2 separate regions of the Homo sapiens genome follow, and region 2 is linked to region 1. Evidence: fine-mapped expression QTL. A gene starts in region 1. The other region holds a variant in brackets. All regions are shown on one strand. Distances are between the middles of the regions.

Region 1 (15,390 bases):
CAAATGGCAATATATTATACACACTGTTCTGAATTTTGTTTTTTTCTTCACTTACTGTATATTAGAGATCCTTCTCTAGTGATACATACAGTCTTTCTCATTTTTTTCACAGCTGCTTATTATTCTGTTCTACGGATATTCCATGATTTATTTAAACAGTTTGGGAGACATTTGTTCCCAACACTTCTATTCTCTGTCAGTGTCTTGTTCCTTCTCAGGTTGTTTCTATGACTCTATCTTGGATACTGTTGAATATGTGATTTTATTTATAACATGGAAGACTACTGAAAAATAATTTAAATTTTATTTTCTAAATGTTTTAAAACTTCAAAAAATTGCCAAGAGTGATGTGGGTTTATAGTTTTTAAAAACCAGCATTGTGAAAGCTGTATGATACCAAGACTTTTTTTTTATTTTTATTTTTTGAGACAGGATCTCACTCTGTCACCCACGCTGGAGGGCAATGACACCATCTCTGCTCACTGTAACTTCTGCCTCTCAGGCTCAGACAATCCTCCTACCTTAGCCTCCCAAGTAGCTGGGACTACAGGCTTGGGCCACCATGCCCAGCTAATGTTTGAATTTTTTTTTTTTTTGAGACAGAGTCTCGCTCTGTCACCTGGCTGGAGTGCAGTGGCCCGATCTCGGCTCACTGCAATCCACTTCCTGGGTTCAAGCGATTTTCCTGCCTCAGCCTCCCGAGTAGCTGGGACTACAGGCGTGCACCACCATGCCCAGCTGATTTTTGTATTTTTAGTAGAGACTGGGTTTCACCATGTTGGTCAGGATGGTCTTGATCTCTTGACCTCGTGATCTACCTGCCTCGGCCTCCCAAAATGCTGGGATTACAGGTGTGAGCTACCGTGCCCGGCCTAATTTTTGTATTTTTAGTAGAGATGGGGTTTTGCCATGTTGCCCGGGCTAGTCTTGAACTCCTGGGCTCAAGTGATCCACCCGCCTTGGCCTCTCAAAGGGCTGGGATTATAGATGTGAGCCACCATGTGGAGCCCAAGACTTTCAATTACTTCTTCTCAGTCTCCTCATAGATCCCACTTAGATTGGGTCATGACATAACTGCTTAAACACTTAAAATTCTGTTGTTCATTTATTTCTTATGTGGGCTAACATAAGACACACATAGCATCAATAACTTTCTTCTAATAGCTGATATTAACTTTAATTCTCTTACCCCTGCAAAATATCATTAAATATTATTACTTTACACATCTTTAATTAAACTCCAACATGCTATCTCATACGTGACTAAAGACTCAAATCAGAAAAATTGCAACATCTGGTTGACCTCAATTCTTTTACAGGAGTTAAGCAAGCTATTGGGTCTGACCATTGTGGTTCCTCTCCTATTGTTGTATGGTCCAAGAGATGGAGGTTTCTTTTGTTTGTTTGTTTGTTTGTTTTTTGAGATTTAGTCTCGTTCCATTGCCCAGGCTGGAGTACAGTGGTGTGATGTAGACTCACTGCAACCTCCGCCTTCCGGGTTTAAGCAATTCTCCTGTCTCAGCCTTCCAAGTAGCTGGGACTACAGGAGCCTGCCACCATGCCCAGCTAATTTTTGATTTTTGTTTATTTTTGAGATGGAGTCTTACTCTGTCGCCCAGGCTAGAGTGCAGTGGCGTGATCTCAGCTCACTGCAGACTCCGCCTCCCTGGTTCAAGCGATTCTCCTGCCTCAGTCTCCCAAGTAGCTGGGATTACAGGCGCTCACCACCGCACCTGGCTAATTTTTGTATCTTTTAGTAGAGATGGGGTTTCACCATCTTGGCCAGGCTGGTCTCGAACTCCTGACCTCATGATCCACCCACCTCGACCTCCTAAAGTGCTGGGATTACAGGCATAAGCTACCGCACCCGGCCTAATTTTTGTATTTTTAGTAGAGATGGGGTTTCACCTTGCTGGTCAGGCTGGTCTTGAACCCCTGACCTCAGGTGATCCACCCGCCTTGGCCTCCCAAAGTGCTGGGGTTACAGGTGTGAGTCACCGAGCCCGGCCAGAGATGGAGATCTTGAGAGATTATAAAGGTGCTGGGTTGTGCCACATATCTGCTGAGCTTGGTGCAGTGTAGGGAATGCATGAGCACCTGGTCAAAAATTCCTCTCTACTCATTAGTTGCTGCATAGCATTTACAGACCCACACCCTTGCCAAGAGATAATTTGAGCTCTTAGCTCTGTCTTGCCAGGGCTGATATCGATGTAATTATTGTTTGATTCTACTATAAGACTGAATTCAGTTTCAGCTTTTTAATTTGTCCATTTCACTTCTCATTTATCAGCTTCTATTGCAGATGTGAAGTTTAGCATTTCTTTGCTCACTCTTTTACTGGGAAACTCTTCTAGCGGAAAGCCTGTCATCTGTTGTGAAGGAGAGCTGGTGTTGACTTGAAGCAACAGAGTTGGTGGTCCAGTGGCCATTGTCCTGTGTTAGGAGCAGGTGGTCTCGCTAAGCTCCATGTGTTTGGAAATTTCTCTGACCAGTGCTTGTTCTGCTAAAGGAAGAAGAGCTCAAGCTGCACTCCTTGTTTCCAGGTCAATCTACTGAACCTGGGAAAATCCCCAGGGGCTAGCTTGAACTTCTTCCTGCTTTTCTCTTCATGGTGGATTTTAAACATAGGGGATTTTCCTCATTCATCTATTTGTATTTCAAACAGCTGCTATAAGAAAGGGGAAAAGGCACATTTTATAGTACATATTTTTAGAAGCAGTGACATAGTTTCTCAAAGGATAACAGTTAAATTTTGGTCCAAAGACTATAATTGCTCTTTACTTGGTGGGTGGGTGTGTGTGTATTTTATATATATATATATACATATGTGTGTGTGTGTTGTTTTTGAGTATGTGTGTATACATTTTTTACTAAAGTAAAAAACAAAAAAATTAAGATCTATTCTTATTCCATTCACATTAAAACTTGTGTTTATATTTAACAACTTAACACAATCCACCATCTGTTGAAGATACTGTATGAATGATACTCCAGAAAAGTTGTCCTGTGTGTTTTTCACATTTTTTTCCACATTTTTAACAGGACTTGAAACCTAGGACAATATAAATAAATGATATCCTGTGGTTTCATTCAGTGTAATAAATGTCTCAAATGAAAAAAATTTACTTAAACTTTGGCATTGTTAAATAGTAGTAATAACAATAGAATCAGAAATAAGAATTTTGTATTTAACCTGGCACTTTCTTCCAGAAAAACTAAAGATGCTTGGGAGCAAATTTTTTCTAGAACTTAATTCTCATTATTTTCTTGGAAAAGAACTCATAAGGTCATATTTGTACATATTCTATCTTAGTGGTGACTGATTATTTACTTATACTTTTAAAAAGAACCTAGAATCTGAAGGCAAGGTAAGAAATCCCCAGTGATCATGAAAATTTCACAAGGTTTTGTGGTTCCCTTCATCTTCAAGTTTTTTTTTATCTTCTATCATCTGTTACCAAATGACTCAGTCTTCTGACTGGCAGAGACCAGAAAAATCACAAAACCTTTTTTTTTTTTTTTTTTTTTGGAGAAGGTCTGTCTCCCAGGCTGGAGTGCAGTGGCATGATCTCAACTCACTGCAACCTCCACCTCCCAAGGGTCAAGCGATTCTCCTGCCTCAGCCTCCTGAGTAGCTGGAATTACAGGCGCCTATCACCATGCCCAGATAATTTTTATATTTTTAGTAGAGACGGGGTTTCACCATGTTGGCCAGGCTGGTCTCAAACTCCTGACCTCAAGTGATCTGCCTGCCTTGGCCTCCCAAAGTGCTTGGATTACAGGTGTGAGTCACCACGCCCGGCTTAGAAAAATCACAAAATCTGATGTCACATGGCAATGGCAATACAAGAATTTAATCTTAGATCTGAATGCTGATGGTATGCTCTATATTTTATTCAAAATCTCTTGGAATGTACACTGTTGACACAAAGAAGGCCATTGCCTACTAATAACAGCATTACTAACTGGCAAAACCCCTGGAGATCTGTTTTTTTTCCCCCCAGAAAAATTACATTGTATATTTCTATCCTGCCCACCTGCCCACCTCCTTACTTACTCTACTGTTCATTATAGACATATGGTCCTTAACTTTTGTAGACATAGCTATACATTTACATACCATATATTTAAATGCATACACATATATAATTTATATAAAAATTAGTGATGGGAAATGTCTGTTTTTCTCAGTTATAAAATTAGGACAGTGTCTTGGAATGATGTTATGTGACCCTTTGGAAAACATCTTACAGCTGTTGTCCAGGCTGGAGCATAGTGGCGGGATCATAGCTCATGTAACCTCCAACTCCTGGGCTCCAGTAATCCTCCAGCCTCAGCCTCCTGAGTAGCTGGGATTACAGGTGCCCACTACCACACCTGGCTAATTTTTGTATTTTTTGTAGAGATGGGGTTTCACCATGTTGGCCAGGGTGGTTTTGAACTCCTGACCTCAAGTGATATGCCCTCCTCAGCCCCACAACGTGCTGGGATTACAGGTATGAGCCACCACGCCCATTCTAAGATGAAACTTTAAAAAACTTTTTTAGAACAGTTTTAGATTTACAGAAATATTGTGAAGATAGTAGAGCGTTTCCATAGACCCCTATTATCACATTTTACAATATTATGATTGTTATTATTAACAAACCGATCCAATTTCCTTAGTTTTTATCTAATGTCCTTTTTCTTTTCTGTTCCAGGATCCCATCCAGAATACATTACCTTTAGTCATCATGTCTCCTGTGGCTCTTCTTGGCTGTGACAGTTTCTCAGCTTTCCCAGTTTTAATGAACTTGCCATTTTCATCAGATTGTACCAAGACCTACTATCAATATGACTTATGACTAGTGGTGCTGACCTTGATCACCTGGCTGAGGTAGTTCTTGTCAGGCTTCTCCACTGTCGAGTTGCTCTCCCCATCCCCCTTTTCCATATTGTACTCTTTGAAAGAAAGTCACTATATGCAGCCCTTCCTTAAAAATATTAAAATGAACTAGCTTAATTAAGTTCTTTCTTACATTTAGGTGTAAATACCTCTGAGGTTTTTTTCTTTTAAAAAATGATTATCTATGTAATACATACTCACTGCACAAGACTTTAAAAATGCAAGAAAAGTATAAAGCAGCAGCAAATAGAACTACCCATAATTCCATCTGTCACAAGCAACCATTTCTAGCTTTTTGTCATATTTCCTTCCAGTTTTTTTTCTTCTGCATAAAATAACTATTTTTATTTCTATTTATTTATTTTTTTGAGACAGAGTTTCACTCTGTCACCAGGCTGGAGTGCCGTGGCACAATCTCGGTTCTCTACAACCTCCACCTCCCAGGTTCAAGGGATTCTCCTGCCTCAGCCTCCTGAGTAGCTGGGACTACAGGCGTGCACCACCATGCCCAGCTAATTTTTGTATTTTTAGTAGAGACGGGGTTTCACCATGTTGGCCAGGATGGTCTTGATCTCTTGACCTTGTGATCCACCCGCCTCGGCCTCCCAAAGTGCTGGGATTACAGGCATGAGCCATCGCGCCTGGCCAAAATAACTATTTTTAAATAGCACTTGCTTGAAATTATTTCATAGGTGGTAAAAATATTTTATCTTTGAATATGGCAAAGAAGATGGATTCATATAAAACCAGAGCAGATCTTGGTGGTACTTCAAGATATAAACTACCAACCCAATAGATAATTTCTGAAAATAACATTTTAGAGTCTCTTCCTCTATTTTTGAGAAGCTTGAATATTTACAAATACAGCATTCACTGTGAGACTTCTTGTTTCTTTTCCTTTCTAAGACTTTTAACTTGTTGTTTATTTTACTATTACATGAAACACATTTTATTTTAATTTTTAAAGTTTTAGTGTTTTTTGAGACAAGGTCTCATTCTGTTGCCCAGTTTGGAGTGCAGTGGCATGAACATGGCTCACTGCAGCCTCAACTTTTTGGGCTCAAGTAATCCTCTAGCTTCAGCTTCACGAGTAGCTGGGACTACAGGTATACACCACCACACCTACCTAATTTATTCTTACAGTTTTTAGAGACGGGGGTCTCGCTGTGTTGCCCAGGCTGGTCTTGAACTCCTGGGCTCAAGCAATCTTCCTGCCTCAGCCTCCCAAAGTGCTGGGATTACAGGGATGAGTCACCATACCCAGCCTTATTTAAATAAGGTTTGAGGAAACTTGGGTAGCTGGTTAAAACTCTGGCAATGATCTAGGTTTCAAATCATCAAATTCCTTTTTGCATGGTGTATAGACTCATGACAACTCTTATTTTTTTAAAGACTTTATTTTGTACATGCTTCTTATTAAAAAATTAATACAGAAAAGTACAAAGTAAAATCCCAAAATTCTATCACCTAAAAAAACCATTATTAACATTATTCCACAAACCTTCCCTTTGCATATATACACAGAGAGATAAATTTACACAAAAGGCTCACACATACCATACATAGTTACTAAATGAGGATGAAGCAAAATGAAGAAATTGAAGAAAATGAAGCTGAAACAAAATGAAGGAATTACCAAATTTTAGCTAAATGTTCTTTTGCAAGACACTTTAGTTCCTAACAATCCCTTTGAAGTTTTGAAAAAAGATTATGAAAAGCATTAAGAGTTTGAAAGTCTACATAATTAACTTTTTTTTTTTTTTTTTTTTGAGACAGGGTCTTGCTCTGTTGCCCATGCTGGAGTGCCTTGGTGTGATCATGGCTCACTGCAGCCTTGACCTCCCAGGCTCAACTGGTCCTCCCACTTCAGCCTCCGAAGTAGCTGGGACCACAGATGTGTGTCACCAAGCCCGGCTAATTTTTTAAAATTCTTTTGTAGAGACAGGATCTTCCAGTGTTGCCCAGGCTGGTCTTGAACTCCTGGAGGCTGGTCTTGAACTCCTGGGCTCAAAAACAATCCTCCTACCTCAGGCTTCCAAAGTGCCAGGATTACAGGTGTGAGCCACCGTGGCTGGCTGGAAAACTCTTCTAATAGTGGCTGGCATGTAGTAAGTGCTTATAGTAAATGTAAGCCAATGCTATTATAGAGGAATAATGGTGAGCATCTGGGCCCACGTATGATATTGAAATCTGTCACTCACAAAATAATCTCTTTGTCTCTCATTCATCTCAGAATAATTTTCCTGTTAAATCTACCAGCTCCTGAGGGGCCCTGAGGGTATAACCAATGAGTATGTGGGCACCAATGTAATGAATGTGTGAATAGGTGATTCTGTCATCTGTTTATAAGAATGACCAGAATACAAAATTCTAGCCTTTTTACAATCCTAAACATATACTATGTGCTACCAATAACAGCAACAATCACCATCATGCATGTCACTTACATGTACACACTAACATAAAGAACTTTATATCTCTGCTTTAAAATCCTCTTTAAAAGTAAACTATTAGCCTGGGTAACATGGTGAGACCTTGTCAATGAAATAAAAAAATTAGCCAGGCACCTGTAGGCCCAGCTGCTCTGGGGCTGAAATGGGAGGATTGCTTGAGCCCAGGAGGTCAAGGCTGCAGTGAGCCAAGATCATGCTACTGCACTCCAGCCTAGGTGACAGAGTGAGACGCTGTCTAAAAAAAAAAAAAAGGTAAATTAATGTTAGTGTTTCTAAATACCCACAAAATTATGAAATTTATATTATGTCTTAAGTTTTTTTTTTTGTTTGTTCGTTTTTGAGATGGAATCTCGCTCTGTCACTCAGGCTGATGTGAAGTGGTGCAATCTCAGCTCACTGCAACCTCCGCCTCCTAGGTTTAAATGATTCTCTGGCCTCAGCCTCCTTAGTAGCTGGGACTACAGGTGTGCGGCACCACGCCTGGCTAATTTTGTACTTTTAGTAGAGACAGGGTTTCACCATGTTGGCCAGGCAGACAAGCCTGACCTCAGGTGATCTGCCTGCCTCGGTCTCCCAAAGTGCTGGGATTACAGGCATGAGCCACCACACCCAGCCAATATTGTGTCCACTGTTTTCAGTTTATTAATCTATAAATTAATTTTTTAAATAAAAAAGCTTTATGAAAACAAAGGTAGATTTCACCTCCCTGCCTTATTTCATGATGATTCCTGAATCTGAACTTCAAGGGAGTTGATGACTTTTACTTAAAGATGTTCTGGGCCGGGCGGGGTGGTTCATGCCTGTAATCCCAGCACTTTCAGAGGCCAAGGCGGGTGGATGGTCTGAGATTGGTAGTTCAAGACCAGCCTGGCCAGCATGGTGAAACCTCGTCTGTACTAAAAATACAAAAATTAGCTGGTCGTGGTGGCAGGTGCCTGTAATCCCAGCTACACAGGAAGCTGAGGCAGGAGAATCACTTGAACCCAGGAGGCGGAGGTTTCAGTGAGCCGAGATCTCGCCATTGCACTACAGCCTGGGCAACAGAGTGAGACTCTGCCTCAAAAAAAAAAAGATGGTCAAGTCCACCAAAGTCTTTCTACCTTCCTCTTTTCTGAGTATTAATATATTTATTTTCTTTGATAGAAAAATGCTATTCAGGTCCTTCATGAAGACATGCATTTACTTTTATTACAAACTCATCTTTTCAGCCACATCTTTTCAGTTGCTTTTTTATTTTTGACACTCTATCCCAAAAAAGAATTTTAAAAGTAAATTTTATGATACAATTTTTAAGTTTGGTTACATCCCAAATTGGATTTTTCTTTGTTGGCAGGGAAAGGGAGAGTTGATGAAATATTCTAGCTGCTTCTCTGAGCTAAGGCTAAAGGTTTTCTTCTTTGTTGTTTTCTTTATCACATGTTTGGTAATTTAGGGACACACATCACCACCAAATAACAGATTATATGCCAATTTTCCATTTTGGCTTTGCTTTTTTTCCTGCATAGTGAGTATGTTGACTTTTTTGGAAATCATTACATTACAAATTCTAGGCTAAGAGTTTACCTGATCTCTAGTTTGAATGTGAAAGAGGATGATTTGATGTTTTTTTTTTTTTTTTCTCTCACCCAGGCTGGAGTGCAGTAGCGCGATCTCGGTTCACTGCAAGCTCCGCCTCCCGAGTTCAAGCAATTCTCCTTCCTCAGCCTTCCCAGTAGCTGGCGCCTGTCGCCACGCCCGGCTAATTTTTTTGTATTTTTTAGTAGAGACGGGTTTTCACAGTGTTGTCCAGGCTGGTTTTGAACTCCTGAGCTCAGGCAATCTGCCCGCCTCGGCCTCCCAAAGTGCTAGGATTACAGGCGTGAGCCACCGCGCCCGGCCGCTTTAATGATGCGCCCGGCCGCTTTAATGATGACCGCTAAATGATGCTTTAATTTCTCCATTAATGAGGGCCGGGGGCAGTGGCTCACTCCTGTAATCCCAGCACTTTGGGAGGCTGAGGCGGGCGGATCACGAGGTCAGGAGATCGAGACCATCCTGGCTAACATGGTGAAACCCCGTCTCTACTAAAAATACAAAAAATTAGCTGGGCGTGGTGGCGGGTGCCTGTAGTCCCAGCTACTCGGGAGGCTGAGGCAGGAGAATGGCGTGAACCCGGAAGGCGGAGCTTGCAGTGAGCCGAGATCGCGCCACTGCACTCCAGCCTGGGCAACAGAGTGAGACTTCGTCTCAAAAAAAAAAAAAAAAGAAAAAGGCCGGGCAAGGTGGCTCATGCCTGTAATCCCAGCACTTTGGGAGGCCGAGACAGGCGGATCACGAGGTCAGGAGATCGAGGCCATCCTGGCTAACACTGTGAAACCCCGTCTCTACTAAAAATACAAAACAATTAGCCGGGCATAGTGGCGGGCGCCTGTAGTCCCAGCTACTCGGGAGGCTGAGGCAGGAGAATGGCGTGAACCCGGGTGGTGGAGCTTGCAGTGAGCCGAGATTGCGCCACTGCACTCCAGCCTGGGCGACAGAGCCAGACTCTGTCTCAAAAAAAAATTCTCCATTAATGAAAATAAAGTAAATTACACTTGCATGATTATGGATTTTAATCCTGATTTATGTTGGGTTAAAGAAGTTTTAGTGCCTCCACTAAAAATGAGATAGAATATAGATGAACTACTCAGCTTTACTATGTATCCTGAATGAGTTAAGTACTCAAACAGTAAGAAATTACAAACATCTCTAACACAAATCTAAACACAAAATGCAGGAACCATATTCCTGCTATATCATTTGTCTTCCTTCTTGATTCGCTCATAGTACACAAATGTAGCAAAATCAATAAATATTGAACTCATGACATCACCTAAATGTGAAGTATTCCTGCCTTAGTAGTCTTCTAACAGTATGGTACCTGTGAATAAGTAAATTTCTTTATAATGATCTCTAAAACATGGCTTAAATTCTTTGGCCGCATTGAAATCTATAAAATAGTGCTTTCAATAAACCACTGCCTTGAGTTTGGAAATCGTTTTCTACACAAAGTCTTTGTTGCATTTGGAGAGGGGGAGGGATGGCATTTTTTTGTAACAGGATTTGACCTGTAACTATTATTAAGAATTTTCTTAGAGGAGTTCAAAGCATTTTACAGGGATCATCTCATTTATCCCTCGAAAGTAAGGCAGAGGCATTATCTCCACTACAGATTGAGAACACTAAAAGGCCAAGATAGGTGGGGCTTTTTGTTGTTGTTTTGCTAAGATCAAAAAGTAATTCTAGGGCAAAGCCAGATTCCGGTCTGACCTTGTTACATGATGCTTCTTGCAGCACCATAATACAATGTAGTTGCTTCCCTAGGTTTCTCTTTGGCTATGCTAGGTGTTGAATAATTTTCAGGGTCAATTTTTATTCTTCCCTGCTCCCTGAAAATGAGTGTTAAGATGTAGATAAGTACAAAAGAAAACTCTCCAATCCTTCCTACCTGGATTTGGAGTACAGGATAAACAGACAGAAATTGGCATCTTCCTCCCCTCCTCCAAGTTTTACTGCCTAGCCCAATGCTAATAGAAAAATAACCCGAGCCACAAATGCAAGTCCCATGTATAATTTTAAATTTTCTAGTAGTTACATTAAAATATATTGTATTTAGCCCAATACAGCGTATCCAAAATATTAACACTTCAACACGTAATCAATATAAAATTATTAATGAGATATTTTGCATTCTTTTTTTTGTATGGCTTCAAAATCTGGTGTGCATTTCTCACTTATAGCTCATTTCAATTTGTATTAGCCACATTTCAAATGCTCAGCAGCCACATGTGACGAGGGAGGACACTGTTGGACAGCACAGGTCTAGACCTCAGTAGCTCTCCCTTCAGATTAATGCCATGTGAATCGAATGGGTGGTATGAAGAATGGATGCTGAGTCCTTGGAGAATCCACTTGCACTTGGGTGGTGACTGATAAGAAGCCCTAGCTGTGCCATTTCCTGATACATGACTGTTTTTGAAGTTATGGACTCAGGATCTAGAAGACTGCAAATCCCCAAATACGTCTAACACCCAAGCTCACGCCAGGACCGTGCTTCCGGGCCTGTGTGAGAACCTAAGCTATGGAACCTGTCAACTTCTAGGGCTGCAGATTCGTTGGGCCCTCACATGTGGCCCGTGGAAAGGAGGCATCACTCGAGGAAGAGGAGGGCTTCTAGAGGGGCAAGGCCACCCAACTAGGGGCTTCTTGAGGGCAGGTGCTCCAAATGGCCGCTTCCTGAGGGCAGCGGGTCCTCTTGTGGCCTCAGGCAGGGCCCTGAAACCGGCCTCACGTGTTTGCAGCGCGAACTCCTGTGCTTCCACCAAGCGCTCTCGGGGATGCGGGGGTGGTGTCAGCGCCCCGGCCCCAGCCCGCACCCCGAAGTGGCTCCAAGGCTGCAGGTGTGAGGGGCGTGCCCAGGGCTCGGCCCGCGCCGCCCCATGTGACCCGGTCCGACATGGTGTCGCCTCCTCCCGGGGCGGCGGCGGTGGCGGCTCGGGCTGGGCTCCGCGTCGGGCCGGCCCCGCGGCCGCTCATGGGCAGCCAGGGCCGCTCGGGGCCCCCCGGGAACGGCGGGCCCGGCGAGGGCGAGGGCGGAGAGGCGAGGAAGCTGCAGGAAGGGAGGGTGGCGAGGGGGAAGCGAAGGAAGGGGAAGGGGAAGGGAAAAGCGAGAGCGGGGCAAGGCGGAAGAGGAAGCGGGGCGGAAGGGAAGCCCGGGCCGCAGACGGCGAAGGAGGCAGCCGGGCCGGGGGCTGACGCGGGAGCGAGGGCATGCCCAAGGGAGGAAGCAGAGGGAGGCAGAAGCGTGGAGGAAGGGGCGAGAGGCATCGTCAAGGGAGTCGAGGGGAGCGCAGGGGCCGGGAAGGAGGCACAAGGAAGAGAGTATGGGAAGAAGGAGGAATGGAGGGTCAGGGCTAGGCGGCGGGAGGGCGCCAGGCCGGGAAGAGCACAGGGACGAGGGGGTCAGGCTTGGGCCGACATCGCGGGGACAGGGGTGGCCATGGCGGCGGCGGCCGGGGAGGAGGAGGAGGAGGAGGAGGCGGCTCGGGAGTCGGCTGCCCGCCCGGCCGCGGGGCCTGCGCTCTGGCGCCTGCCGGAGGAGCTGCTGCTGCTCATCTGCTCCTACCTGGACATGCGGGCCCTCGGCCGCCTGGCCCAGGTGTGCCGCTGGCTGCGGCGCTTCACCAGCTGCGATCTGCTCTGGCGCCGGATAGCCCGGGCCTCGCTCAACTCCGGCTTCACGCGGCTCGGCACCGACCTGTAAGCGTCCGCTCGCCCGCCCGCTCCCCGCCCCGAGCCGGCCCCGCGTCCCGGGAAAGGGCGGGGCGCCGCGGCCTGGTCGGCCCAGGGTCGTGTCGCACCCCGAGTTTCTAGGCCTACACCTGACCTCCGCCTACACCCTTTCCCGAGCACTCTCGGGGACCCCTTTGCCCCTCCTCCCCAAGGCCTCCATCTGAGGCAGCCTCCCGAGAGCATCCCTCAGTAGGCACCCTCCCGGGTGGGCCGCTCCTCACAATTAGCCATCTTAGGCACTCCCTACAGCTTTCGATTGTGTGTTTTTGCAGAGGTTTAGCTGCCCCGGTTCCTTCGCCCCAGAGGAGCCAGTCTGGTACGGTGCTTTGGACGATTCCTTGAGTCCAGGTCTAGGACTCAGGTTCCTTAAGTGGTCTATCATAAATTTTTGTGGACTTTCATCTTTCATCCTCCCTACCCTTTTCTAAAGGTTGTTAAGCTTCAGGGCTCGGACCTTAAGAGAAGCCCTCGGTCCCAGTGTTCAGCCATAGTTTATGACTTCATATAGGCAGAGCGACACGAAAAAGGGGGCCTGCTTGAGGCAGGAGGCTGGAGTCTGTCCAGGATGTGTACAAGACATGGTATTGCAATTTGGCCTGTTTTTGGTAGGGTCTGAGACCTGTGAATGAAAAACTTTTCTGAACCACTTAAACTGTTAAATAGGAAGGAAAAAACATGTAGGGAATTGGGGGAATAAGAGCTTTCAGATTGCCCCCTATTCCACCCATTTTTTAAAAAGTAGTTCTTTCTAGTACATTATGACAACATTAAATAACGTTTTTAAAAACATAAAAAGCCATAATACCATCACCTCTAGACAATTATTTTCATTTAAAAACCTTTTCAGTTGCACATATAATTGCTATCTTACTGATCCTAACAGAATAGGTACATAGTAAATGTTTGTGGGCTGTCGCATAATGAGATTAAAGAACATCCCTCTACTATTAAACTTACATGTAGTGTTCAGCTTTTTGTTATTATAGATAATAATGAAATAATGCATTTTTGAGTAACAGCTTTACTGAAATATAAGTCACATGTCATTACCATACATATTTTTTAAAAATCAGTTCCTTAGGATAAAGTCTCAAGGTGGCATTATAGCAAAGGTTATGGTTTGCAGAGGTGCTGTACCAAATTATAGTGGGACCAGCACAGAGTGAACAAATTTTATGTGAGAATTTAGAAAATCTTTGCCACTTTAGTGGTCATTTAAGGTACCAAAGTTGTGTTATTTTGCATCTCTTTTACCACTGGCTGGGATAAATATATTCCCATGTGTTTGTTTCACCTGGGAGACTGTCTCTTCCCACTCTTTGCCCATTTATTACTGGGGTCTTCTTGTTTTTCCTATAAATTTGGAATCTTTGTGGGTCTTAGATGTTAGAATCTAGTCTGTCATCTTTGATCCAGATATTTTTCCCAGTCAATTCATTTTACTTTACTGTTTTACACTTTATTAGGCTCTGCCAGTCTTTTGTGATTTTTTTCTCTTTTTCTCCCCAAAGCTGAGAAATTTATAATTCCTCCACAGACCTGATAAATCTGTTTCCCACTGGTTTTCTTACAAATTTGATTTTTTTTTTTTTTTTTTTTTTGAGACGGAGTTTCACTCTTGTTGCCCGGGCTGGAGTGCAGTGGTGTGCACTCGGCTCACCACCTCCTGGGTTCAAGCGGTTCTCCTGCCTCAGCCTCTTGCGTAGCTGGGATTACAGGCATGCACCACCACACCCAGCTAATTTTGTATTTTTGGTAGAGATAGGGTTTCTCCATCTTGGTCAGGTTGGTCTCGAACTGCCGACCTCAGGTTATCTGCCCACCTCGGCCTCCCAAAGTGCTGGGATTACAGGCATGAGCCATGGCGCCTGGCCTAATTTAATTTTTTAATAGTTAACACTTTCATCAATATCACTTTTGGTGCAAGAGGTGAATTCAACTTACTATTGTTGTCTACAACTTTGTTAAGTAATTCTCTTTTCCTTTGTTTTGGACAGCTTATTTTGCCATATAATAAGTTTATATATATATTATATATAATATACACATGTATATACACATAGACATATATGTGTGTATATTGGATCTATATCTGAACTCTTCATTGTGTGTCACTGATACAGTTTTCCATTTCCATACTATTTTAAATATTGTTACTTTTTGATAGAGTCTAGTAATCTGTCAGGGTAAGATTATCCTGTTGGATTTATGTGTGTGTGTCACTTCTACACTTCTGTTCAACTCTCTGTCAAAAAAAAAAATTCTGTACTTTTTCAAGGACTTTTGTGGTTTTCATGATAAAGTTCTTACATATCTGTTGTTGCACTTACTCCTATGTATTTCCGAAAATGTTATGCATTTCGTTTTTATTGCAAATACACTCTCTTCAGTATGTTTTCTGGCTGGGTATTACTGAATGTAGAAGATTACTCTACTCTTGTAAATTTTGAATTTGATGGTTTTTTATTCTAGGATGATTGTATTCATGATAATGGTTCCTTGGGACTTCTTGGGCATGCAGTCTTGTCACCTGCAGAAATAGTTTTTTATTCTCTTCCTTTCTCATGAGAATAACTCTTTCAAAGAATATTATCAGTTAACCTATAAGAGAAGTCTAAAGTGACTGTAACCCAAGCTAGCTAAGGCAAAGTTTGGCTTTCTCTCTCTTCATATAGAGATTGAGTGAATGAATGAAAGAATTGATGTTTATTTTCAAATGCTCTAAAAGAGAGATATTGGGAA
Region 2 (15,972 bases), 24 kb before region 1:
TTGAACTCCTGGGCTCAAAAGTCCAAAGTGCCTTGTCCTTCCAAAGTGCTGGGACTATAGGCATGAGCCACCACACCTGGCCAATATGTGACTTTTTAGAAGGCTAAAAGTGCCAGAGAAGATCTGGGGAAGAAAAAGGGGTTCGCGGGGTGGTTAAAAGTTCAAGCTGTAGAGCTTACTGCCTGGCATCCAACTCAGCTCTGCCACTTAGTAGCTCTGTCAAGTTACTTGCCCCCTCTGAGATTCATCTACAAAATGAGGACACATGCCCATGCCCAGTGGCTCAAACTTGTAATCCCAGCACTCTGGGAGGCTGAGGCGGGTGGATCACCTGAGGTGATTTGGGAGGCTGAGGGGGACGGATCACCTGAGGTGATAACTCAACAACAAAAAGACAAACAATTCAATTTAAAAATGGGCAAAGCAAAGCCAGGCGTGGTGGCTCACACCTGTAATCCTAGCACTTTGGGAGGCTGGGGCGGGCAGATCACAAGGTCAGGAGTTTGAGACCATCCTGGCCAATATGGTGAAACCCCGTCTCTACTAAAAATACAAAAATTAGCTGGGTATGGTGGCGTGCGCCTGTAATCCCAGCTACTCTGGAGGCTGAGGCAGGAGAATTGCTTGAACCCGGGAGGCAGAGGTTGTGGTGAGCCGAGATTGCGCCACTGCACTCCAGCCTGGGCAACAGAATGAGACTCTGTCTCAAAAAAAAAAAAAAAAAAAGGGCAAAGGGGCTGGGCATGGTGGCTCACACCTGTAATCCCAGCACTTTGGGAGGCTGAGGTGGGTGGATCACTAGGTCATTAGTTCGAGACCAGCCTGGCCAATATGGTGAAACCCCATCTGTACTAAAAATACAAAAATTAGTGGGTGTGGTGGCACGCGCCTGTAGTCCCAGCTACTCGGGAGGCTGAGACAGAAGAATTACTTTAACCCAGGAGGCGGAGATTTCAGAGAGCCAAGATTGTGCCATTGCACTCCAGCCTGGGTGACAGAGTGACACTCTGTCTCAAAAAAAAAAAAAAAAAAAATGGGCAAAGGACTTGAATAGACATTTCTCCAAAGAAGATATTCAAGTGGCCAGTAAGCACATAAAAAGATGCTCAAGGCCAAGCGCAGTGGCTCACACCTGTAATCTTAATACCTTGAAAGGCCAAGGCACAAGGACGAGACCAGAAGTTTGAGACCAGCCTGGGCAACATACCAAGACCCCATGTCTACAAAGAATATATTAGCAGGGCCTGGAGGCACATGCCTATAGTACCAGCTACTTGGGAAGCTGAGACGGGTGGATTGCTTGAGCCCAGTGAGCTATGATTGTGCCACTGCATGCCAGCCTGGCTAGAGTGGTTACTATTTAACAAACAAACAAGCAAACAAACAACTCAGTGATATGGTTTGGCTATGTCCCCATCCAAATTTAATCTTGAATTGTAGTTCTCATAATCTCCATGTATCATGGGAGGGACCCGGCGGGAGGTAATTGAATCATGGGGGCGGTTACCCCCATGCTGTTCTCGTGATAGTGAGTGAGTTCTCGCGAGATCTGATGGTTTTTTTTTTTTTTTTTTTGAGACGGAGTCTCGCTCTGTCGCCCAGACTGGAGTGCAGTGGCGCAATCTCGGCTCACTGCAAGCTCTGTCTTCCGGGTTCATGCCATTCTCCTGCCTCAGCCTCCTGAGTAGCTGGGACTACAGGCGCCCGCCATTACGCCCGGCTAATTTTATTTTATTTTATTTTTAGTAGAGACAGGGTTTCACTGTGTTAGCCAGGATGGTCTGTGTCTCCTGACCTCGTGATCCACCCGCCTCGGCCTCCCAAAGTGCTGGGATTACAAAATGCGTGAGCCACCACGCCCGGCTGATGGTTTTATTAATATAAGGGACTTTAACCCTTTGCTCAGGACTTCTACTTGCTGCTGCCATGTGAAGAAGGACATATTTGCTTCCCCTTTCACCATGATTGTAAGTTTCCTGAGGCCTCCCCAGCCCTGCAGAACTGTAAGTCAATTAAACCTCTTTCCTTAATAAATTACCCAGTCTTGGGCAGTTCTTTATAGCAGCGTGAGAAGGCACTAATACACCCAGAAAATAACAAGTGTTGGTGAGCATGTGGAGGAATTGGAGCCCTTGTGCACTGTTGGTGGGAATTTAACATGGTATATATTAGATGCTATGGAAAATAGTATTTTATTTATTTATCCCTCAAAAAATAAAAAATAGCCATATGGGTACCATGTGACCTAGCAATTCCACTTCTGGGTATATACACAAACAAATTGGAAGCAGGGTAACAAGCAGCCATTTGTACACCCATGACCATAGCAGCATCATCTACAATAGCCAGAAGGTGAGAGTGACCCACATGTCCATCGATGGATGAATAGATAAATAAAATGGGATATATTCATACAATGGAATATTATTCAGCCTTTAAAAGGAAGGAAATTCTGATACATGCTACATCATGGTTTGAGGCTTTTCCTATCCAATTCTGCTTCCTTCCTCATTTGTCTTTCACAGGGGTTACTGCCCCCAACCACCAAAATCTTATTTTGTCTCTGCATCTGCTGCCCAGAGGACCCAACTGACACAAAGTTCAATAATGACTCCTTCTGCAGGATTTGTCCAGCCTGTCTGAAAATAGAAGGCCTAATTTCTCCTTCTTGTCATTCTACATCTTTCTCTCTCTCTCTCTTTTTTTTTTTTTTGAGTTGGAGTTTCACTCTTATTGCCCAGGCTGGAGTGCAGTGGCACCATCTCGGCTCACCTCGACCTCTGCCTTCCGAGTTCAAGCAATTCTCCTGCCTTAGCCTCCCGAGTAGCTGGGATTACAGGCATGCGCCACCATGCCCTGCCAATTTTTGTATTTTTAGTAGAGATGAGGTTTCTCCATGTTGGTCAGGCTGGTCTCGAACTCCCGACCTCGGGTGATCCCCTGCCTCAGCCTCCTTTGTATATGTATGTAAATCTATGTATGCATATCCCAAAGTGCTGGGATTACAAGCATGAGCCACTGCACCCGGACTGTTAAAAAAAACTTCTGACTTTCGTTCTTGATTAAAGCACTCGATTATTTAGCATTTATTAAATATTCACTGTTTAACATTATTCACGCTAACCTGTATTAGGAGGGCTTCCATTTCTTATCTCATTTAATTCTCAGGTGAGTCCTGTGAGATGAGGTGAAAGGAGAGTCTTGAAAGATTAGGTGATGTATCCAAGGTCACATTGTCAGAGGGTGACAGGTAGTTTGTTCAGATCTGGTTTTCACCCCCTTAGAGAGCCCTGCCTTCCTGTCTAGAACCTTCCCTGCCTCCATTATTCTCTATTCCTCTGCCAAATTTTCTATTTCACCATAGCATTTACCGCTGTCTGAAGTCACCATTCTCTGTGTTTATGGAGGACAGAGGGTCTGTCTTACTGACTGCTGTATTCCCAGAACCTAGAACAGAATCCGGCAAAGAGTCATTGAAAGGATGCTTAAACTCACCTTTTTTTTTTTTTTTTTTTTTTTTTTTTGAGACAGTCTCACTCTGTCGCTCAGGCTGGAGTGCAGTGGTGCGATCTCGGCTCACTGCAACCTCTGCCTCCCAGGTTCAAGAGATTCTCCTACCTCAGCCTCCCGAGTAGCCAGAACTACAGGCGCCCACCCCCACGCCTGGCTAATTTTTTTTTGTACTTTTAGTAGAGATGGGGTTTCACCATGTTGGCCAGGCTGGTCTCGAACTCCTGACTTCAGGTGATACACCCTCTTCGGCCTCCCCAGGTGCTGGGATTACAGGCATGAGCCATCCACCGGCTAAGCTCACCTTTAAGGCATGTTTATATTCATTGTTTTAAATAATAGGTCACATTTGAATAACACTCTACAGTTTACAGAAACTGTGTTTCTGCTGGCTGTCACCTCCCTTGGTCATCCTCACAGAAGCCTTTGGGGCAGGCCCAGCACAGGTTACTCCTTCTTCAGGGTCTGCTCAGACTTGCTGGTTCTTCAGCCGGGGATGCCCCCAGTTCTTTGCCTGCATCACTCTCTGCCTCCTTCTATGTCCGTTCCTCAGGAAGGCTGGCCCTGGTCTTGCAGCCCAGGTCAGGAACCCTGCGACATACTCTCTTCTCCCTTTGTAAGTCTCTTTGTGGCCCTAATCACAATGGCAGTGAAATCATTATGCCAGTATTTTATGATAGGCTCCCTGACTAGCCAGTGCTCCACGGGGACAGGGCCTTGTCATGCCTGTATACCTCACACACCCCTCACTGTGCCTGACACAGAGTAGGTGCTCATTAGATGTGTGTGTATTTGTATATGTATGTATATCTATGTATGCATATAAAATGAATTATTTCCAACAAATAGACTAGGAGATCGAAGCTCTATGGTCTCAGCCAGGGGTCCCCAACCCCCTAGGCCATGGACTGGTACCAGTCCATGGCCTGTTAGGAACCTGGCTGCACAGCAGGAGGTGAACATCAGGCATAACTGCCTGAGGTGTACCTCCCATCAGATCAGTGGCGGCATTAGATTCTCGTAGGAATGCGATCCCCATTGTGAACTGTGCGTGTGACGGATCTAGGTTGCCCACTCCTTATGAGAATCTAACTAATGATCTGAGGTGGAACAGTTTAATCCCAAAACCGGCTCCTCCACCCCATCCAAGGAAAAACTGTCTTCCGTGAAACCTGTTCCTGGTGCCAAAAAGGTTGGGGACCACTGGGCTAAGCCACTGGCTTGAAAACTTTTTGTTAGTTACCTATAGTAGAACGTTTATTGTTCATTATGACCCCAGGAATCATACATACACACGTGTACTTCCCCTTACTGTGGACTAAGCCCTGGTATTTTCTATTCTACTCAATTTATTTTATTAAAACATTTTTTAGAGCCTGGCGCCATGGCTCACACCTGTAATCCCAGCACTCTGGGAGGCTGAGGAGGGCAGATCACCTAAGGTCAGGAGTTCGGACCAGCCTGGCCAACATGGTGAAACCCTGTCCCTACTAAAAATACAAAAATTAGCCGGGCTTGGTGGCAGGAATCTGTAATCCCAGCTTCCGGAAGGCTGAGGCAGGAGAATCGCTTGAACCCAGGAGGTGGAGGTTGCAGTGAGCCGAGATTGAGCCGCTGCACTCCAGCCTGGGCAACAGAGCAAGACTCCATCTCGAAAAAATTTTTTTTTTAGTTCCAATCTATTTCATTGATTTCATGACCCACTAACATCTATGGAAGCTTAGCCAATGTGACTTGTTCAAGGTCCCATAACTAGTAGAGTGGTGGAAGCCAGTATTCTCCTGCCTATTACATTCTGGTGGGTTTCTTGCCCTAAGGCAAAACTAAAAGTTTTGTGTCAGTTTTGATAACAAAGGAAAAAATTCATTCTTTTACTTCTCAGTCACAGTTCAGGCAAGGCTGGTCTCACCATCTGCAGGCATTTCAATTAGGTTCATCGAGGTACTTCAGCTTTCTGCAATGTAGCTATCCAGAAGGTTCCTCCTAGAAGCTCCAAAGGGAAAGCTTTAGTCCTAATGGGTGGCACACCCAGACTTGCTGGAATTCTCATCCGAATTACACAAAACATTAACATATGGACAAAGGCACACTGCATATTAAATGATTTACTGGGGTCAAAGATCAAGTCAATGGCAGGCTTAACGTTAACCTGCCGCACGCAGATCCTCAGAGTCTGCTGGGCTAAGACACAGGGAAGCCTTGGCTAGGCTGGGCCCAGCAGCCCGGACCTGGTCAGTCATCAGCAAGTTAATCTACAACGGCACCTTCTTTTCCTACCAGAGGGAGGTTTGACTTGAACTTTTGGAAGACCTGCCTATTTGGAATCCAGATTCCTCTGCTTCAGAGGCTAATTTAGCTGGTGTTGGATGCAGAAGCCTAGAGAAAGCCGAAACTTATTTGTTCTTTTATTCCTGGATTTATAATTTGACCTAATATACTGTACGTCTGTACATATGTTGATCTCAGAAAATGTTTGAGCTTGCCTGCTGCTCAGGCCACGTTGGCAGACAGCTGTTAAAGCCATCAGCAATGTTTGCTTCCAGTTACAAAAGAAAACATTCTCTATTTGGGGCTATGTTGTTGTTTTCTTCTTTCCTGATTTAAAA[G/A]GGGAAGTATGTTTCCCAGTAGAGATGTGGGGCTGCCCCCATCCCCTTCTAGGGTTAAGAATGACTAAGAAAACTTTTCAGCACACCTGGCTCATCATCTTTCTAATATTCATACTCTTTTTCTCTCCCTGTGGAAGTATCCTCAGGGGCTTTGGTTTGAAATTATTTGAGCAACTGAGCAGGTTTCTCTCCTTTCCCTGGGGACACCAGTTTATGGTTCAACATCTCCCTCAAACACTGGTGTGTTTTTAGCTAAGAAAGACTCAGGTTTTGTCCCATTATCAGGTGCACTGACAAAATAACTGCTGATGGGAGTAAGAAAACACGAGTAATTCTAACTCCTGCCCAGAACCTTTGAAGGAATGCACAAACTCTGACCTTGCTTTGGTGCTTTGGAGAGACCATCTGGGGAAAACTTCATTTCCAAAAACATATATGAATTTGAGAGTTCCTCTGGCTGAGATGGAGGAAAAGCCATATGGTAAATGGCGGGGTGGGGGAGGGTCACATATGCAAATATTTGTTTCAGAGAAAACAACTCAAATCAGAGTTGTCCATGATACGTCCACCCTTGAATGCCTGACCTGTGCACTGGGGAGGAGGAGGGAAGGAGTAGAGATAAAGGGGAATGAAGAACAGAGAAGCCAGACAATGGCCGGGAAACAGGCCACAAAGGCAGGACACTTGCTGTAGGCTGGAGGTACTGTTGGAAATGTCAGACCGAAGTTCAGGAACCAGCTGGAAGCAAAAGAGGCAGGAAGGTTTGAAAATGAGGAATGGAAGTCTCTGAGGAAAATTTGGCTGCCTAAATGAAAGAGGCTTGGAGAAAAAAAAATGTCAACAAATAGTACCTCAGAGGAATCCAGTGACTATTAGGACCGCTCAAAAATCCATTTTGACTCAAAATTGAAGATGAGATCTGGGCTACTACATGGAAAGGTCTCAACAACCCCAGGATTTCTGGTTAAAGGGCACAGTCAAGTTGAAACTGCAAATCACCAAGCTAAGGTGTTCACTTGAACCACATGACGCCAAGAAATAAGGCTTATAAATGTTATCTTTTTTTTTTTAAATTTCAAATCCCAGCCAGGCACAGTGGCTCACACCTCTAATTCCACTTTGGGAGGCCAAAACAGGAGGAATCCCTTGAGCTCAGGTGTTCAAGACCAGCCTGGGCAACATAACAAGACCCCATCTCTATAAAAAAAAAAAAAAATTTTTCCCAATGAGCCAGGCATGGTGGCATGCACCTGTAGTCCTAGCTACTTGTGAGGCTGAGGTGAGGATTGTTTGAGCTCAGGAGGTGGGGCCTGCATTGAGCTATGATCATGCCACTGCACTCCATCCTGGGTGACAGAGCAAGACCCTGTCTCAAAATAATAATAATAATAAATAAAATAAAATTCAAATCCCAATTGTTCATTGCTGGTATTTAGTATATGACAGAAACTGGCTTTTGTATATTGATCTTGTAACATGGACTCTCTCTCCATTTATTTAGATCTCTGATTTTCTTCACCAGTGTTATGTAGTTTTTCTCATATAGATCCTGTATTTATTTTGTTAGATTTGGGCCTAAGTGGTTTTTGTTTTGTTTTGATTTTTGTTGGTGCTATTGTAAATGGTATTTTTTTTACATTTCAAATTCCAATTGTTCCTTGCTGGTCTTTAGGAAAGCATAAAAAACAAGGCTTTTTTCTTCTTAACTGCCATTCTGAGTTTGTACCCAAAACTACTCCTAGTGAGGGAAAGCTGGGGCAGGATGGGTCAGTAATCACAGCTGTCCCCTTCCCATCTTTCCCTCCCCTTCACTCTGTAAATGTTTGTTTATTTCATTTGACTGAATTGATGTTATGCTAAAGAACAGCCAGGGAGGAGAGGTACTGTTAAGAAACAGGGGAAAATTCTAAGTCCAAGGTTAAGATCACTGGAGAAGAGATGTTTGAACTCTTAGTGTTTGAGACAGAATGGAGGGTGTGGGAAAATTAATAGCAATAGCACAGTGAGAGAGAGAGGGTGTTTCACCAAATGAGGTGGGCACGCTGGGCGAGGTGGCTCATGCCTGTCATCCTAGCACTTCAGGAGGCTGAAATGGGCAGATGGCTTGAGCCTAGGAGTTTGAAACCAGCCTGGGCAACATGGTGACACCTCACCTCTACAAAAAAATACAAAATTAGCTGGGTGTGGTGGTGCGTAACTGTGGTCCCAGTTACTCAGGAGGCTGAGGTGAGAGGATTGCTGAAGTCCAGGAGGCAGATGTTGCAGTGAGCTGAGATTGCACCACTGCACTCCAACCTGGGTGACAAACCCTGTCTCAAAAAAAAAGATGGGGAAATAGACACCTGGTAAATATGATACCTAGGGTTACATGTAACAATCTACAAAAACAGTATATGAATTGAGTTCAAACTCCCATTTTTGGCCCAGAATAATTAGAGTATAAATAAGGTTTTTGTTTTTTATTTTTATTTTTTTAAATAGAGATGGGGGTCTCACTATGTTGCCCAGGCTTGTCCCAAACTCCTGAGCTCAAGCAATCCTCCTGCCTTGGCCTCCCAAAGTGCTAGGATTATAGGCAAGAGCATGGCCTAAGTCATTGCTGTTACTGTTTATGCCAATGCTTGTTTCAGAAAAACAAGAAGATTGCAAATGTGATAGTCTCTGTGCAACTTGGAGTTTGCTGTTGATATGAGGCTTATTGGTTGTGAGAAAGTAGGACTTTCTGTGGGATGAGAAAAAAATGAGAAGATTCACCCTTTTACTCAAGTGCCTGGCAAGTTACCTAGGAAGTAGTGTTCAATAAATGCATATTGAACGAATCTGGAAGTAACTAGGCAACTTTGATCTTAGCATCCAAGTGTGTGATGGTGGGGACAGAGTTGAGTTTAAGCAACTGTTATCAACAGAATCTACAGTAACAGCTAAGTCAGGATTCATTTGGCTTCCAAGAGTTGTTTGTTTGTTTGTTTTTAAGACACTTTTGGCCTGGCATGGTGGCTCAGCCTGTAATCCCAGCACTTCTTTGGTGGGGCAAGGCAGGAGGATTGCTTGAGCCCAGGGGTTCAAGACTAGCCTGGGCAACATAGCAAGATCTCATCACTAAAAAAATAAAAAATTAGCTGGGTATGATGGCACATGCCTGTAGTCCCAGCTACTCAGGAAGCTAAGGTGGGAGGATTGCTTTAGCCTAGGAGGTTGAGATTACAGAGAGCTGTGATCATGCCACTGTACTTCAGCTTGGGTGACAGAGCGAGACCCTGCCTCAAAACAAAAACAAAAACAAAAAATGAAACACACACACAAAGTAAAGAAAAGAAAATAATTTTTTTTTAGAGATAGGGTCTCGCCATATTGCCCAGGCTGGCCTTCAACTCCTGGCCTCATGCATTCCTCCCACATTGGCCTCCCAAAAAAGTGCTGGGATTGCAGCCTGAACCACCATGCCAGGCTGGCTTCTAATAGTTTTTAATGAGACAAAGGGTAGAGCTATACTCTGTACAAAAAGGGTGTTGCTTACTCAGTGACCAAGGAAGCTGAGAGACATGGTTCTGCCTTGGATTGCAGGTGAACTATCTGTGGATTCACACCTTCCCTAAGTCTGAAGAATGTCTGCTGAGCTGTCAGGATGAAATGTGTAGCTGGGAGGTATGCGGGTGTGCTAGAGAACCGAGTAGTGATAGGATGTCCCTCAGAATCTCTTCTAATCAGAATCACCTGTGATTCTTTTGGATTGTGTACAGCTGTACTCCAAGATGCCCTTGAGCTGTGGTGAGAGTTGTGCCCTTTGCTGGAGGGAGTCTAGTTCATGGTGACCACAGGGGGACACCTCCTGGCATGCCAGAGCCACGGCTTGGAGGAGAAGTCCCTGAGCCTTAAGGGGTAGGGACAGAAGGTCACCAAAGAGATAATAAGTGTAGCAGGGGAACCATTTCTAAAAGATCTGCTCTGAGTCACAATTAATTAAGGTGTAGGGGAAAGGGTACCTTCTTACCAAATGCCCAGGTGTCATTCTGGGCCCCAAGAAAATAATTTACACAAGTTTCTCACCTGGAGCGTTTCCCCCAAGAACTGGCATATTGTTTTTGTTCCTTTCATGCCTCCAAAAACACTGAAGAGGTTTCTTTAGGTGGTTACTATACCCAAGAACACCGGCATTTTCTTCTTAGGCAAGGACCTCAAATTCAACCATAATACTACTTTAGAGACTAACAAATGTTCATGAACAGTTAAATACAGAAGGAGGTTTTATGATGTGAGGCCATGAGCATGAACTTTGCAAGCAGTAGATCTGAGTTCAGTTTCCAGTTTTCCTGTACATTAGCCTTGTGTCCTTGGACAAATCACTTGACCTTTCTTAGTCTTCGAGAAATAGGGATGATGAGAATAATAATATCCTTTCTGTTAACTTTACAGGCTACTGTTGTAAGCTAGGAGGTGCTGTGCATTCATTTTAATTATTGTTGGGACAAACTGATATCAGGGCTCTCTGAAAACTGCCTCAGGAGAGAGTCCACTTAGAAGGACTGATGCAAGCCTTATGGACCTACTGACACAGGCAGGTCATGAAGCACAGGGAAAGTGAAAAGGGTCAGCATAAATACTTAGGGCCCGCACAGTGGCTCACGCCAGTAATCCCAGCAATTTGGGAGGCCGAGGCAGGCAGATCACTTGAGGTCAGGAGTCTGAGACTAGCCTGGCCAACATGGTGAAACCCTGTCTCTACTAAAAATACAAAAACAAGCCAGGTGTGGTGGTGTGCTTCTGTAATCTCAGCTACTTGGGAGCCTGAGGCAGGAGAATCCCTTGAATCTGGGAGGCAGATTGCAGTGAGCTGAGATCACACCACTGCACTCAAGCCTGAGCAATAGAGTGAGACTCCGTCTCAAAAATAAATAAATACATAAATACTTAGCATTTCCTATGTGGGAAACATTCTTGATACGGAGGTGGAAAAGTGGGGTTGGGGGAAGAAATAGTAGATAGTAGATAGTTAGCCGGGAGCGGTGGCTCACGCCTGTAATCCTACCACTTTGGGAGGCTGAGGCGGGCGGATCACGAGGTCAGGAGTTCGAGACCAGCCTGGCCAACATAGTGAAACCCCGTCTCTACTAAAAATACAAAAAATTAGCCGGTCATGGTGGCGCGTGCCTGTCATCCCAGGCACTTGGGAGGCTGAGGCAGGGAATCGTTTGAATCCGGGAGTTGGAGGTTGTAGTCAGCCAAGATCTGCCATTGCACTCCAGCCCGCGTGACAGTGCGAGAATCCGTCTTTAAAAAAAAAAATAGATAGTAGAAAGTTTGGCTCCTTGACAGGTCACTTGGAGAAGAAAAATACACTGTAAAAAAGTATAACCAATACTAGGTAGTACTGACCAATGCCAAATCAACGGAATAGCCAGGGAGTGCTTAGGACTGGTGTGGGAAGGCTTTCAAGAGGGATAAAACATATCTGCTTTGATGGATGGGCAGGATTCAGATAAAAGAAGACTTTTCCAGAAAGAGAACAGTTTGGAGCAAAGTTCAGAGGCCAAACAAGACCTTTGTGTTACCTATCAAACACTCAGTATATATCTGACATTGTGCTAGCTTCTTTTACATTCTGTTGTCCAGTTTAACATATACATAATAGTACAACAAATTAGGCTTTGTTATCCCTATTTTACAAATGAAGAAACCGAAGCTCAGCAAGATTCAGTATTTTCCCCAGGGTCCTAATAAAGCAATGGCAGACCCAGGGTTCAAATCCACATAGTCTAACTCCAAGTCCAAAGATTTTTCCAGAATATATGCTGCTTGTTTGGCAAAAAGGAAATAGGTCAGTTTGGATGGAATGGAAGGCTTCATGCTGGGGCAGTCAGGATGCAGAGAGGTCAGGGGAAACCAGAATACTGAGTGCTAGGCAAGACGGTTTGGATTGACCAGGAAGCCCTTGGGTGGCTCAAGCTTTCTGAGTAATAGAAGGACATAACTGAAGTTTGTTCAGGATTCCCAGGTCTAAGGCTTTGTCAGGGCATAAGCTATACCAATTAATAATTAGTTCTGGGCCGGGCATGGTGGCTCACACCTGAAATCCCAGCACTCTGGGAGGCAGAGGTGGAGGCTGGTGGATCATTTGAGGTCAGGAGTTTGAGACCAGCCTTGCCAAAATGGCAAAACCCCGTCTTCACTAAAGATACAAAAATTAGCGGGGTGTGGTGGCGCACTCCTGTAGTCCCAGTGCATGCCTGTAGTCCCAGCTACTTGGGAGGCTGAGGCGGGAGAATCACTTGAACCCGGGAGACAGAGGTTGCATTGAGCCGAGATCGCACCACTATACTCCAGCCCGGGTGACAGAGGGAGACTCCGTCTCAAAAAAAAAAAAATATTAGTTCCAAAAGGAGAAAGCTACTACCCTGTCATTTATTCTGGGATGTTTCCTCCTATTGAACTTATTTTTCAGTTTATTTTCTCAATTGTGTTATTCTTGGGTACTCTTAAATACTTCTGCAACTTCCAGCACAGAGATAGCATCATATTTCAGTAGTGGACAAAGTAAGAAGGATTTAGATTGGTCCTGGATCCAGTAGTGAACTGCAGAGATGAAAGTACTCACACACAGACTATTTTAGCACCCCAAGTACCACTGAATCTAGCCTTCCATTAAGAGGCTCCTACATTCTTTTCCTAAGCTGAAGGTTTCAATGTAGGTCAATGGTGAAAGACAAATTGTTGGAGGACTAACAGACAATGCTCACTCTTTACATTGTGTGTGGGAATTTCTCAGCTGATTCAATAGATGTTTGCTTGGGTGTTAAGCATGTAACAGCAGTAGCAATTCCTTCTGTCCTCCCATCCCTCTTTTAAACTTCATTTTAAAATGGACATTGATTTCAAAACTTTAAAAAAGTTTATGTGCGATGACGCAGCAATATCACTGTTAGGAATTTATAAGCAAATGTAAAGCAAAGTCTAAAATGTGAATATGCAGCACTCTTATAATGCCAAACATTTGGAAACACCTAAGTTTCTAATAATAGGGAATTGGTTGAGTAAGTTATGGTACATCTTATCCAGTGGAATGCTGCACAGCCAATAAAATGACATTGTTGAAGAACATTTTTTTTTTGTTTTGAGACAGAATTTCGCTATTTTTGCCCAGGTTGGAGTGCAATGGCGCCATCTCAGCTCACTGCAACCTCTGCCTCCCCGGTTCAAGCGATTCTCCTGCCTCAGCCTCTTGAGTAGCTGGGATTACAGGCGTGCACCACCATGGCCGGCTAATTTTTGTATTTTTAGTAGAGATGAGGTTTCTCCATGTTGGTCAGGCTGGTCTCAAACTCCTGACCTCAGGTGATCCCCCGCCTCAGCTTCCCAAAGTGCTGGGATCACAGGCTAAAGCCACCGCGCCCAGCCCTGAAGAACACTTAATGATGCAGAAAAATGTTAACATTACGTTAGTCACAGTTTAGGCCATTGTTTGTTTATTTATTTATTTATTTATTTATTTTGAGACAGGGTCTTGCTCTGTTACCCAGGCTGGAGTGCAGCGGCACAATCTCAGCTCACTGCAACCTCCGCCTCCCGGGTTTGAGTGATTCTCCCTCCTCAGCATCCCGTGTAGCTGGGATTACAAGCATGCGCCACCATGACCTGGCTAATTTTTGTATTTTTAGTAGACACTAAGTTTCACCATATTGGCCAGGCTGGTCTCGAACTCCTGACCTCAGGTGATCCACCAGCCTTGGCCTCCCCAAGTGCTGGGATTACAGGCGTGAGCCACTGTGCCCAGCCTCATTGTTTAATTTTTAAAAGTATATAACCACTTCACATACATTATTATAAAAACAAAACATGTGGGCAGGGGGCTCACACCTGTAATCCCAGCACTTTGGAAGGCCAAGGCAGGAGGAGAACTTGAGCTCAGGAGTTTGAGACTAGCCTGGGCAACAAAGTGAGACCTCATCTCTACAAAAAACACAAACATTAGCCAGGTGTGGTGGTGTGTGCCAGTGGTCCCAGCTACATGGGAGGCTGAGGCAGGAGGATCACTTGAGCCCAGGAGGCCGATGCTACAGTGAGACATATATTGCACCACTGCACTCCAGCCTTGGCAATAGAGCGATACCTTGTCTCAAAAACAAAAAACAAAAAAACACAGGGCTTGGTTTGTGACTCACATCTGTAATCCTAGCACTTTGGGAGGCTGAGGCCGGTGAGACCAGCTTGGGCAACATGGCAAAAACACATCTCTACAAAAAATTCAAAAAATTAGCCAGGTGTGGTGGTGTGCACCTGTAGTCCCAGCTACAGGAGGCTGTGGTGGGAGGATCGTTTGAGCCCAGGAAGTTGAGGCTGCAGTGAGCCGTGATCATGCCACTGCACTCCAGCCTGGGTGAGTGAGACCCTGTCTCAAAACAAAACAGGAAAACAGCGTGTTGGCATGGATACGGAGAAATAGAAACCCTTGTATAATGCTGGTGGAAATGTAAAATGGTGCCTCTGCTGTGGAAAACCGTATGGTGGTTTCTCAGAAAATTAAACATATAATTACCATATGATTCAGCAATTCCACTTCCGAGTATGTACACAAAAGAACTGAAAGCAGGGACTCAAACAGCTGTTTGTACGCCAATATTCATAGCAGCATACTTCACAGTAGGCAAAAGGTGGAAAAACCTGAATGTCCATTAACAGATGAATGGATAAACAAAATGTGCTAAATACATACAATGGGGTATTGTTTAGCCTTTAAAGGGATTGATCAGATACATGCTACAACATGGATGAACCTTGAAGACATTATGCTAAGTAAAATAAGCCAAACACAAAAAGACAAACATTGTATGATTTCACTTAAATGAGGTGTCTAAAATAGTCAAATACATAGATACAGAAAGTAGAACAGTGGTTACCAGGGATTGGGGGGTGTGGGGTGGAATAGGGAGTCATTGTTTACTGTGTATAGAACTTCTATCCGGGAGGATGAAAAAGTCCTGGAGATAGATATTAGTGATGGTCATACTAACAATGTGGATGTATTTAATGCTACTGAGCTGTATACTTACAAATGGTGAGAAGGGTAAATTTTATGTTATGTATATTTTACCACAATAAAAAAAATTAATTTTTGTTGTTGTTGAGACAGGGTCTCCCAGGCTGGAGTGCAGTGGCACAATCATGGCCCACTGCAGCCTTGACCTCCTGGGCTCAAGTGATCCTCCCATCTCAGTCACTCGAATATCTGGGACTACAGGTGCATGCCACCACACCCAGCTAATTTTTGTATTTTCTATAAAGACGGGGTTTAGCTATGTTGCCCAGGCTGGTCTTGAACTCCTGGTCTCCACTGGGTCTGGCTTCCTAAAGTGTTGGGATTACAGGCATGAGCCACCACGCCATTCCTTAATTTTTATAGTACATTTTAAATTTAATGTAGTACACTGAAGACTATAAAACATTAATGAAAGAAATTGAAGAAGGTGGCTGGGCACAGTGGCTCATGCCTGTAATCCCAGCACATTGGGAGGCCGAGGAGGGCGGATCACTTGAGGTCAGGAGTTCAAGACCATCCTGCCCAACATGGCGAAACCCTGTCTCTACTAAAAATACAAAAATCAGCCAGGCATGGTGATGTGCACCTGTAATCCCAGCTGCTCGGGAGGGGAGAATTGCTTGAGCCCAGGAGGCAGAGGTTGCAGTGAGCCGAGATCGCACCACTGCACTCCAGCCTGGACGACAGAGCAAGACTCTGTCTCAAAAAAAAGAAATTGAAGAAGACACGAGTAAATGGAAAGATATCCTGTGTTCACAGATTAGAAGAATTAATGTTGTTAAAATGTCCATTTTGGGGCCAGGTGTGGTGGCTCACGCCTGTAAT

Which allele goes with the higher level. Positions count from the first base shown, and alleles are read on the strand shown. Sizes are in standard deviations (SD) of each study's normalised expression.
For the expression in putamen of the gene that starts at base 11,826 in region 1, allele G in region 2 goes with a higher level than allele A (moderate effect, 0.46 SD a copy in GTEx).

What was found.
Region 2: its variant is fine-mapped to the expression of FBXW4 in putamen (GTEx, PIP above 0.99).

The regions. Positions count from the first base shown.
Region 1 is chr10:101,691,606-101,706,995 of GRCh38, reverse strand. It overlaps FBXW4 (F-box and WD repeat domain containing 4), which reads left to right and starts at 11,826. Exons shown (of 9, transcript NM_022039.4): 1 at 11,826-12,615. The coding sequence starts at 11,891. It overlaps LINC03046 (long intergenic non-protein coding RNA 3046), which reads left to right. Exons shown (of 3, transcript NR_186546.1): 3 at 4,701-5,019. RefSeq lists silencers at 11,657-11,936, 11,967-12,016, 12,297-12,756 and an enhancer at 13,067-13,146.
Region 2 is chr10:101,715,748-101,731,719 of GRCh38, reverse strand. LINC03046 (long intergenic non-protein coding RNA 3046) reads left to right here and starts at 1,578. Exons shown (of 3, transcript NR_186546.1): 1 at 1,578-2,003. RefSeq lists enhancers at 1,415-1,914, 7,755-8,474. The variant G/A (reference allele first, on the strand shown) is at 6,117.